2 linked regions of the Homo sapiens genome follow. The protein of the gene in region 2 interacts with the protein of the main gene of each other region in a pairwise test. Each region holds a gene or a part of one and is shown on either strand. Other genes may lie near its edges.

Region 1 (4,565 bases), on a different chromosome or scaffold from region 2:
TTTCAAGCACTATTTTATGTACTAAGATAATGCCAATTTATGAAATGTCAGTAATTACAAATGTTTCCCCTAAGATCCCTTCAGATGACTGTATACTGTATTCCAAATAATTAACCTGTAAGTTCCCCAAAACACTTTTCCTGCCTCCCTCCCACTCCATTTGCCCACTATCAAGAGCAGAGCCCTAAAGCCCTGATTAGTGGCCACTAGGGAAAATATTAACTGTAATATCTATTACATTTCAATGATGTTACTGTTCTAAGCAGCAGAAACTGCAAAGTAATTTCTGAAATCATACTACCAGATAGAGAAGCTAAAGAATTTCAACCCTGCCCTCCATTTCTCACCTTTAGCAATCAAAGAAGAGTTCTGGGGTAGGAAAGTTGTGAAAAGTATTCACTATTTAACTGGGAATGACAACTCAAGTTTTATTCCTAGTTGGTTGACCTTGACCAAGTCAACTAACCTGAAAATCTGTTTCTTGATGACAACTGTTAAGGTCTTTTCTAGCTCTGAAATTTCATCACAGAGGGCTGGGATCAGTTTAATATAAAAGGTTGTCTGGGCCGGGTGTGGTGGCTCACACTTGTAATCCCAGGGGTTGGAGGCTGCAGTGAGCTATGACTGGGCCACTGCACTCCAGCCCGAGTGACAGAGTGAGATGCTGGCTCTATTTAGCGGGGTGGTGGGGAGAGGTTATTTCCAAGTAGGTCAAACCAATATTCAGCTCCAGTGGTCACAGGGGAGACTGACTACACTGCCTGTAGTGCCTCTCTTTGGGTAGGTTGTTTGAACACGGAAGCCCTGTCCCAAAACCCACAGAAATACTTATTTTCACCATGGCTTACTTCTTTCCTATGTACATATCCACTCTTGTCTTGTTTGCAAAAAGTATATGCCAAAACACAAGAAATTAGCATCTGTGCAGATGCTTTTTAAAAGTACCTAATAATTCTTAACAATCAACCTATTTTAACAAGGATTGGTCCCTCTGTTCAGGTACTTTTGCAACTCTTAGGCTATATGATATAAATAGAAAAAAATCATCACTTGATGTGTTTTTGCAAAGTAACAGGTAAAAACACTTGTTTTTTTCCCTGGAGAGCTTTGTGGCTCCAGACAAAGAATAAATATTCAGAAGTACAAACTTTACAGGAAAAGACAAAATAGGCCAGGGCCATGGGCATCAGATTTGGACATGGTAACTGAAAATGGACTGAAATTTTCCCAATGCTGAAAAGCAGTATGGTACATGAGGTTATGAAAACAGTGATCCCGAAGCCCCTCTCTCAAACTGAGGACTGAACCTGGAACAGTTACAGGCTTCTCTACTTTCACTAGCTGCTTCTCTAAGGGGCCAACAAAAGTGGCCATGTCTTATTTAATGAACCTATCACTACAATAAAAATGTCACAATTCAGAAAACATTACTTTTTACAGACTATCATAATCTGCTGGTCACCCTTTCACTCTGTCAGCTTATCTATGCCTCATTGTCACAGATACAAAAAAGGAAAGCAAAATTTGCCTTTCTAGGTATCACCACATTGCAGCCTTGGGGAGTGGGGAGATAAGGCAACAGGGTGAATAATTAGCAATGCTGGTCTCATCAAGCTCATTAAAATGTATAATGAAAATTTTGCCCATCCCCATTTCTTTGTTTCTAACCTGAAATTTTTTCTCTCTCTTTTTTTAAGAGTCAGGATCTCGCTATGGGGCTGAGGCCAGCCTTGAACTTCTGGGATCAAGTGATCTTCCTGCCTTAGCCTTCTGAGTAGCTGGGACCACAGGCTCATGCCACCACACCTGGCTCTAACCTGAAATTTTCAATATGATCATAATAACCCCAGCGTGTGTTAACCTACAGATTGCTCCTTAAAACTCAATTGCTTTAGCAGCTTTTAAGATCCTCCCCATCCCTTACTACTCACCTTTTAGGCTGTATATCATTCCAGCCCTAAGCTCCAGAGAGCCTGGTTCAAATGGACACTACAGTTTTTTCCATGCGTATTTAATGCTCACAGAACAAACCCCAATAGACCACAACCTTCACTCAGACTAACACAGCATTCTACTTGCCTGGCAGGTTCACAGATCATAAATTCCTCAGAAATCAATCTGCAGAATAAAGCAAGGACAACACTCAGAAGAACCCTGCCTAGAACCTAAATTAAAAAAACAAATCAGCTTTTAAGAGGACACCATGTCCTTTGCTTGGGAGCGCAATGCGACCAAGAAAGAACTAAAAGAGAATATGAAGTCCTCTTATTTAAGATATCAAACCAAAAATCTTCAGGAGAAAAAAAAGTTAACTGGTCTCATAGTAATAAAATGATCCCTTATCATGCCAACGCAAACTTTGATATGTTACCCCAACTCAAACAGCCCACGGCTGGTAAAAGATTTCTCCACCTGCGCAATGCCACAGGGCATTGCTAAAAACAAAACCCTTTTACACATAAAAAAGCCCCAAGATTTTAAAGCAGGAAAGAGGTAGGCTTATAAGTAAACCTACAGAGAGTATTAGATACAAATATTATCTAGCTATTTCATACTTTGAGAGTGAGCAGGGGGCAATAACTGACTACGCTTTGTAGCCAAAGAAAGAGAGACCATGTTTCATATGTGTTTGATTTTTACCTTTACCTGAAGTTCTCCCTGGAGACACAGAAACACGACTTTTTCTTGTACGGTTTGACTGCTGGGGTGTAGGGGAATGCCGAGTTTTGGGTGGTGGAGTTGCAGGAGGTGATGGCCTGTGCCTTCGCCTTGGAGGACTTGCTGAAGGAGATAACCTACGAGTTTTCCGAGGGGGGCTGGATGTCCTCTTGGGAGGCTTCTTTGGTGGTGACCGTGAACGAGATGAAGAGGATGATGAGCTACTCCCAGACAAGGATGCTGACGAACGTCTTCTTCTGTGGAATAAAGTATTCATATTCACTAATTGCACACTTATAAAGAACGGCCTTACAGGTATGAACAGTTTACACAAAAATACAGCTATTTTAATCCGACTTTTGAGTTTATGTAGCTAAGCACATAAATGAGTCCAAAAGAATGGGGGAAAAAACCATAACCTAGGCCAGGAAACAGCTAGTTCTGAGATTAATATAAACAACTTAATCTGATAAATACTTCTGTCTGTGTTCTCTCTCCAGTTATAAAACTTGTCAGGTTGAATGCTATAATAAAATAACTAACTAGTCCTTCTGCCTTAGGAATGGTATTGGTGTTTTGGAGTTTGCATATAAAATTTGGGGGCAAGGTATTTTCCATTTAATAACACAATGTTGAGAAACCTTTAGGTTGCATTTTTAAAAAAGATGTGCAAAACTAAGAATTCATTTAGCTACATAAACTTAGAAGCAGGGGCCTCTCGAATTCTGCGGCAAAATTTGTGTTAAGTTCTGTTGCAATTATGTGTACCTGCAGAATTCACCTTTGGCGGAAGAATTCCTGAGAACCTGAAAAAAAGAAACCCTACCTTAAGTGTGAGATAAAAACTGGCTGAAAGGGAATCTTAAACAATCTGTAAAATATTGACTGCTAAATGGCTGAGTAAGCACAATTTAAACATGCTGTTTGCAAAACTCCAGTATAAGAAATAGCTGTTTCCACTAATCTTGTACTAGGAAGCACCAGCATTACTTTTCTCCTAAAAGGGAATTAGAAAAGTGTGATGCCTGAAAATTGACTGACCATTTACCTCACTAATTTCCTCTATGAGCACAACACATCAATTCTTTGCAACAGTAGTAATAGTTCAATATATCTTAACAACCCCTCCCCAAAGAAAATTTTCAAAATATGGGACTCTGAAAAACCTGACTGCAGAAACAAAGTAACTTTACAGAGCTTACTTGATTTTTCCCCTCTTTATTTCCAAATTGATTTGGTTCCCTGAAAAGAACTTTAAAAGACTCAAACAAAAAATTCTGTCCAAAATAACTGGAAGCTTAATCATCGGCATTTCTTCCCAAGCCAGGTGAAACGTATTGCAAGAAGGCACAAAAACTGCTACCAGTGCACTAGGACTCTACTTTGGGTAGACTTAGCCACTAATTTTTGTTTAAAGTGATATATCCAAGATTCAAATATTTTATCTTATGCTCATTTTAGAATGATGTAAAAAAAAGAACACTGGTACAGTTGGGGTTTTGAAAAATAACCAGACACTAAACTAGTAATAGCAATTATATCTATGGAATATAGATATATTCCCCCACGGATTATGGAAAACTTCCAAGTTATGCTATTTCTGTCTGAATTACTTATAAGCTTCATTACTTCTATAATGAGAATTTTCTGAGAATTTTATAAAAAATTCATAAAAATACTTTTCTCAAAGTATAACAGCAAATGAATTACTTTAATACTGGTAAAAGGAGCTTACTGGCCCTATAATCAGCTACTTTTCAGAAGCCAGTTAAAAGCCAAAGAGAAGGTGGCCAATTCTCTTACTTAGTATGATTTCTTGGTGAAGTCTAGAAGGGTAAAAGTTAACAGAAAAGTATCAATAAGATGAATTTCTCGTTTACTTTCCAACACCAGACTAGACACTTTTC
Region 2 (5,467 bases):
TGAAGTGTGAGAGAATATTTCTGAGGTGGAGGAAGTAGAATGATGAAGAGTTTGAGCTCTGAAGTCAAATCTATCCAGGCTCAAATCTTTCTTTGCTACGTGCAAGCTGCAGGACCCGCTAGTCACTTCACCTCTTTGTGCCTCAGCCTCCCCATCTGTGAAATACTCCTCTGTTGGGGTTGTAGTGAGGAGTGAATGAGATAATTTATATAAAGAGCATGGCACTGTGCCTGGTACAAACCCAGATCTCCATAAAGCAGATGCTCTTGTGTACTATGCCAGGGGCTACCCAACGAGATGCAGAGAGGGGGGATGCTAAAGCCCCTTACTACCTGGGCTGCGCTTGTTCAGTAGTGATGCTTGGGTTCTGTGGACTGGACTCCTGAGCAGCTCCAATGCTCTGTATTCACTTTTAAATGTGGCTTTGGTGCTCCCTAAAGAGCCACTGGAGATTGGTAGAGCTGTTTGAAACATTTGATGGACCTCAGGGGCACACTAATCAAAGGAAGTGTTTTATTTTATTGGTTGCAAATGCTTACGGGCTATGAGACTTGGCAAGCAGCTTGACCTTCTCAATCTCAGTTTTCTCATCCATAAAATGGGGCTAATAATAGCAGCTCCCTCCAAGAGCTGCTGTGAGGACTGGATGAGCTAATTTATGGAAAGTGCTACTTGGCACCCAGTCAGAGCTCCATCAGTGTTGGCTCTTGCTATTAATAATAAATGATAGGTTTTTTCGTTACTATTTGCCAGGCCCATTGGGGAGAAAAAAGTTGAATGTCCTCTAGTGAGGGCCTCAGAGTTTAGTAGAAAAGGTAGACACAACATAAGTACATATTTCATAAGGGAGACAGTCTTTTTAATTTTTAAAATTTGTTTTCACATAATAACTGTACATATTTGGGGGATACATAGTGGTGTTGTGATACATATAATGTACAGTGATCAGATCAGTGTAATTAACATATCCATCATCTTAAACATTTATAATTTCTTTTATTAGAAACATTCAGTATTTTTCTTCTAGCTATTTGAAACTGTAAAACATATTATTGTCTTAAGCATGATAATGTAGGGAGAAATAGAGACAGAGGAATGTAAAAAAAAAACAGCGAAGGGAGAGACCCTTAATGAAGCATGGAGTCCCTTGCTTATAGTCACACAGTTATTTTTAGTTATCCGATCTGCAAAATGGGGATGATTCTTCTATTTCATCAACGTTATCTACAAATACAAGGAATGATCAGAGAAAATCAGACCTTTGCCCCCAGCAGGGTCTCAAATACCATTTCTTTTAATAGGAGAGAAAGCAGGCTAAACTCTCTGAGGGGAACATTAACTGTGGGGGAATAGTCAACGCTAGTGGAGGGGAGCCGTGGAAGGGAGCTGCTCATATAATATACATTTTCCAGCTCAAGGATGCAGTCTCTGGCGTGGGCTATTAGGCTTCTTGTCCTTCATGGACCAGCTCTAGCTAATAGGAAATCTAGTCTGCATTCCATGAACAACCACCAGTGATGGGGGGATTATAGCGAGCCTGCAAATGTGGAAGATAAAATTAATCACAGGGGAATTAATACACAAAGTGGAAGAAGCTGCACGTTGGCTAAAAAAAAATTAGGTTGTACTTTCATTCATTTATTCAGTCATTCAACATTTTTATTGAACCACTACTCAACGTAACAGTGAATGAACACAGGAACTCCCTGTTCCCGTGGAGGAGAAAGACAATAAATGAAGAACCAAATAAATAAATGAGAGCTGGTGGTAATGCATTCTGTAAAGAACAATAAAGCCAAGGAAAGGAATAGAGGGTGAGGGAATGAGCTGCTTTGTTGGACAGCATGATCCCTGAGTGAAGGGAGAGGTGAGCTGTGAGGATAAGTGAGAGAAAAGTGTTTGAGGCAGAGGGAACAGCAAGTGCAAAGGCCCTGAGGTAGAAGGATGCTTGGTGTATTTGAGAAATAGCAAGGAGGTCAGTGTGGCTAGAGCAGAGTGAGTGAATGGGAGAGTGACAGAAGATGATTCCCAGGATGCAGGCAGAAAACAGATCAAGTGGGGCCTTGTAAGCCAGTTCAGGAAATTCCTAGGTCCTGGGCTGGGGGCAGGAGGTGGTCCCAGGAGGGTTCTTGCCTTCTCAAGCAGAGTTCCAGATCTGATCTGCTTCTGTTTGACTCCTCTTTCCTGACTCTGATGCAGCCAGTGATGACTTTGAACAGCAATATCAGAAGATTGGCTGGGTCCCTCCATGTGTTATGGACAAGCATGAAATTTACAGTCCCTTTGATTGTGAACAATCACATCAGGAAACTTTAAAGATGCTGTTTAGACTTCCAAATAGCAGTGATAGATTTTGTTCCCACGGTGCAAGGGTTTGGTCTCTCATATTCATGCATGCAAACCTAGACTATCCCTTGCACCCAGTAGCCCCCTCCACTGCACACTCTTGAAGCTACAGTCTGCTCTTTCTGTCTCTCTCCCTCTGTGTATCTCTCCCGGCACCTGTCCCCCCACACCTTCCAGCCCCCCACTCCATTTGAAATTTTGCTGAGGGAGCTCCCATATGCTACAGCCTCTGTGCGGAGCTCTGTGAAATAGAACACTGAATTAAGATGTCATAGAGACAAAGCCAAACCAAATACAGGAACAATGCCGAACCCTAAAACAGTCATTAAGTAATTCATGTCTACGTGTGTCTGTTCAAAACAAATATTAAGATCCTCTGGACGCAAATCTTTCTCATCCGGAGAATCCTCTGGTTGCTGGATTCCCAAAGCTTAGATGCCGCTGTCGGACAGCTTTGCTGAGTACAAATACCAACAGATCACTGTTCTCTGGCTTCGTTAAAAGTTAAGCTTAGGCAACTGAGCAGGAATTTAGAAGACAGTTGCCACTTCTGCAGAAAGAGAGGTGCCATTTGGGCCTGAAGCGTGCATCTTCATGGTGTGTGTGCACGCTCACTTGTGGTGGGAATGTGTGTGCTAAGAGCCTTGTGTTACTATGTGCCTTGCCCTGTGCTGAACACATTTCATCTCTTATCCAGTTCTGTACTTATAATAATTCCAGAAGAGAGGTGTCTTCAAGACCCTATTTTACAGATGAGAAAACAGAGGCTCTGAGAATAGAAATGATCTGCTCACAGACACATGGCTGGTAAGAGTCAGAATTGGAATGAGAACCCAGAGCTCTTAACCAACATGTTTATAGGATAAGACACTTTGCAGAGGAGGAAAAAATGGTATCACAGAGGGGAGGTAAGCCCTGGGAATCCAGCAACCAGGGGAGTCTCTAGATGAGAAACCTTTGCGTCCGGAGGTTCTTACTATTTGTTTTGAACAGACACACGTAGATGTGAATTGCTTAATGACTGTTTCAGGGTTCGGCATTGTCCTATTTGGTTCGGCTTTGTCTCTATGTCATCTTAATTCAGTGTGCCCATGATCACACGGTGTGTAAGTGATGAAAGCAGGAGATGAATTCAGGTCTGTCTGATTGCTAGTATATTCTTCTCTCCTGGCTGGACTTCCTGTCATTCTGGTTTGGGTTTTAAGGTTGGGGGTGTTTTTGTTTTGTTTTGCTCATCTTGTTTTATGTTCAATCAGTTTAGTAACTGCCATTGTTATAATCCCATCTCATACCACTTGCAGCAATACTGCTTTCCTCTTTCCTTGCCCCTCTTATCCATTATCCACATAGACCCAGAAGAACCTCTTTGAAAAGCACATCAGACCATGTAAGCCCTCTCTCCCTCCATCTAAAGCCCTCTATCACTTTCTCTTGTTTGTGTTTTTTTGGTTTGTTTTTGTTTTGAGATGGAGTCTCGCTCTGTCACCCAGGCTGGAGTGCAGTGGTGCGAACTCAGCTCACTGCAACCTCTGCCTCCCAGGCTCAAGGAATTCTCCTGCCTAAGCCTCCCAAGTACCCACCCCGCACCCAGCTAATTTTTGTATTTTTTTAGTAGAGACAGGGTTTCACCATTTTGGCCAGGCTGGTCTTGAACTCCTGACCTCAGGTGATCCACCCTCCTCGGCCTTCCAAAGTACTGGGATTACAGGTGTGAGCCACCATGCCTGGACCCATGTTTTTTTAAGTATACAGAGCCAGCTCCCTGCCATGGCCTCTAGCCTCTTCATGGTCCACTTCCTGCCCACCTCCCTGAGACCATTTCTAAAACACCACCTCTCACTTCCTCTGTTTAGTTGCATCTTATTCCTTTTAGTTACTCACATTTTCCAGGCTCCTTCCTGCCATGGAGCCTTTGCACATGCTGCTAGGAAAGCTCTTCCTCTCCCCTGGTGCCTGATTTATACCTACTCCACTTTCCAGAGCTCAGAGGAAATGCTGTTTCCTCGGGGATCCTTCCAGAATGCTGCAGACTAAGTCATACCCCTCATTACAGACATTACTTTCTTATCACTGTTTTCAACACATTTGTAATTATATATGGATTTGGGCGATCATTGGCTAAAGCATACCTCTCCTAACGGTTGAGGCCTCATGAGGAGAGGGACTGTGACTATGAGCTCCTTGTTGAACGAATCTCTTCCCCCAGATACGCAGCAGGGACCAAACACATGTTGGTAGAATGCATGAACTGTAGCACTTTCCCCTCATCGAATCACTTTCACACCTAATAGTCTGAACCATATGGAATTGCCAATATTCAAAACCAGTAATGTTATTTCCTCTGATTCATAGGAGAATTGTTTGAACCACTGGGGATGGGGACTATGCCTGTCTCATTCTTTGCGGTATCCCAGCACCTAGTACAGTGGCTCAAGGTTGGTCATCTTTAAATATTTGTTGAATAAATTGTTAATGAGGACAATACAACCATAAGCACACTGTACAGATGAGAAAACTCAGAGATCTACAGAGGTGTAGTATTAGATAGAGCTAACAGGACCTTAGGGATCACCCGATCTCATTTTACACGTGGAGGGCTGAGGGATAGGTTTGATAACGTGCTTAACATATTGGAACCATAGTGCGCATGTGTAATTTGTAAATAAATACACATATATTGGGGTTTTGTTCTCAGCATTTCTCACTGAGAGAGATATGAGATAAAAGAAACTTTGGGGTCCATTGATCTAATTCAGCTCCTCTTTTAGCAGAAAGAGACACTGAAGCCTGCAAAAAGAGAGAGATTTGCCTAAGGTCTGTAGTCTGCAGGTGAGCTCTGGGTTCAGAGAAGTGATGTTTGCCCAACGTCAGGGCTCTTGTTTGAACTTCTCTGCTGCAACCAGGTGAGCAGACACCAGTTCTCTCTGGTGACCCCACCCACGCTGTGAGACATGACATCCCGCCCCCTCAGGGTCTCCTGTGGCACCTGCTGCCCACCCACTCGTCTGGGTATCCTGACAAGATGTCCATCCGCACCCAGCCTGTGCCTAGCAGAGCAGGTGAGCAGCTCTGGGTGTTTCTGGAATCAGATTTCAGAACTTCCAGCTGATAAAGGGCTTTT

What was found.
Region 1: the proteins of SRRM4 (region 2) and SRRM1 interact in binary tests that used the Homo sapiens proteins (3 or more experiments, as listed by UniProt).

The regions. Positions count from the first base shown.
Region 1 is NC_000001.11:24,653,205-24,657,769, reverse strand, and holds part of SRRM1 (serine/arginine repetitive matrix protein 1), read right to left. Parts: intron 3,465-4,565; coding exon of another isoform or gene 3,427-3,464; intron 2,916-3,426; coding exon 2,641-2,915; intron 2,119-2,640; coding exon of another isoform or gene 2,107-2,118; exon of another isoform or gene 2,080-2,106; intron 1-2,079. UniProt on the Homo sapiens protein: Part of pre- and post-splicing multiprotein mRNP complexes. As a component of the minor spliceosome, involved in the splicing of U12-type introns in pre-mRNAs. Involved in numerous pre-mRNA processing events.
Region 2 is NC_000012.12:118,987,029-118,992,495, forward strand, and holds part of SRRM4 (serine/arginine repetitive matrix protein 4), read left to right. Parts: intron 1-5,467. UniProt on the Homo sapiens protein: Splicing factor specifically required for neural cell differentiation.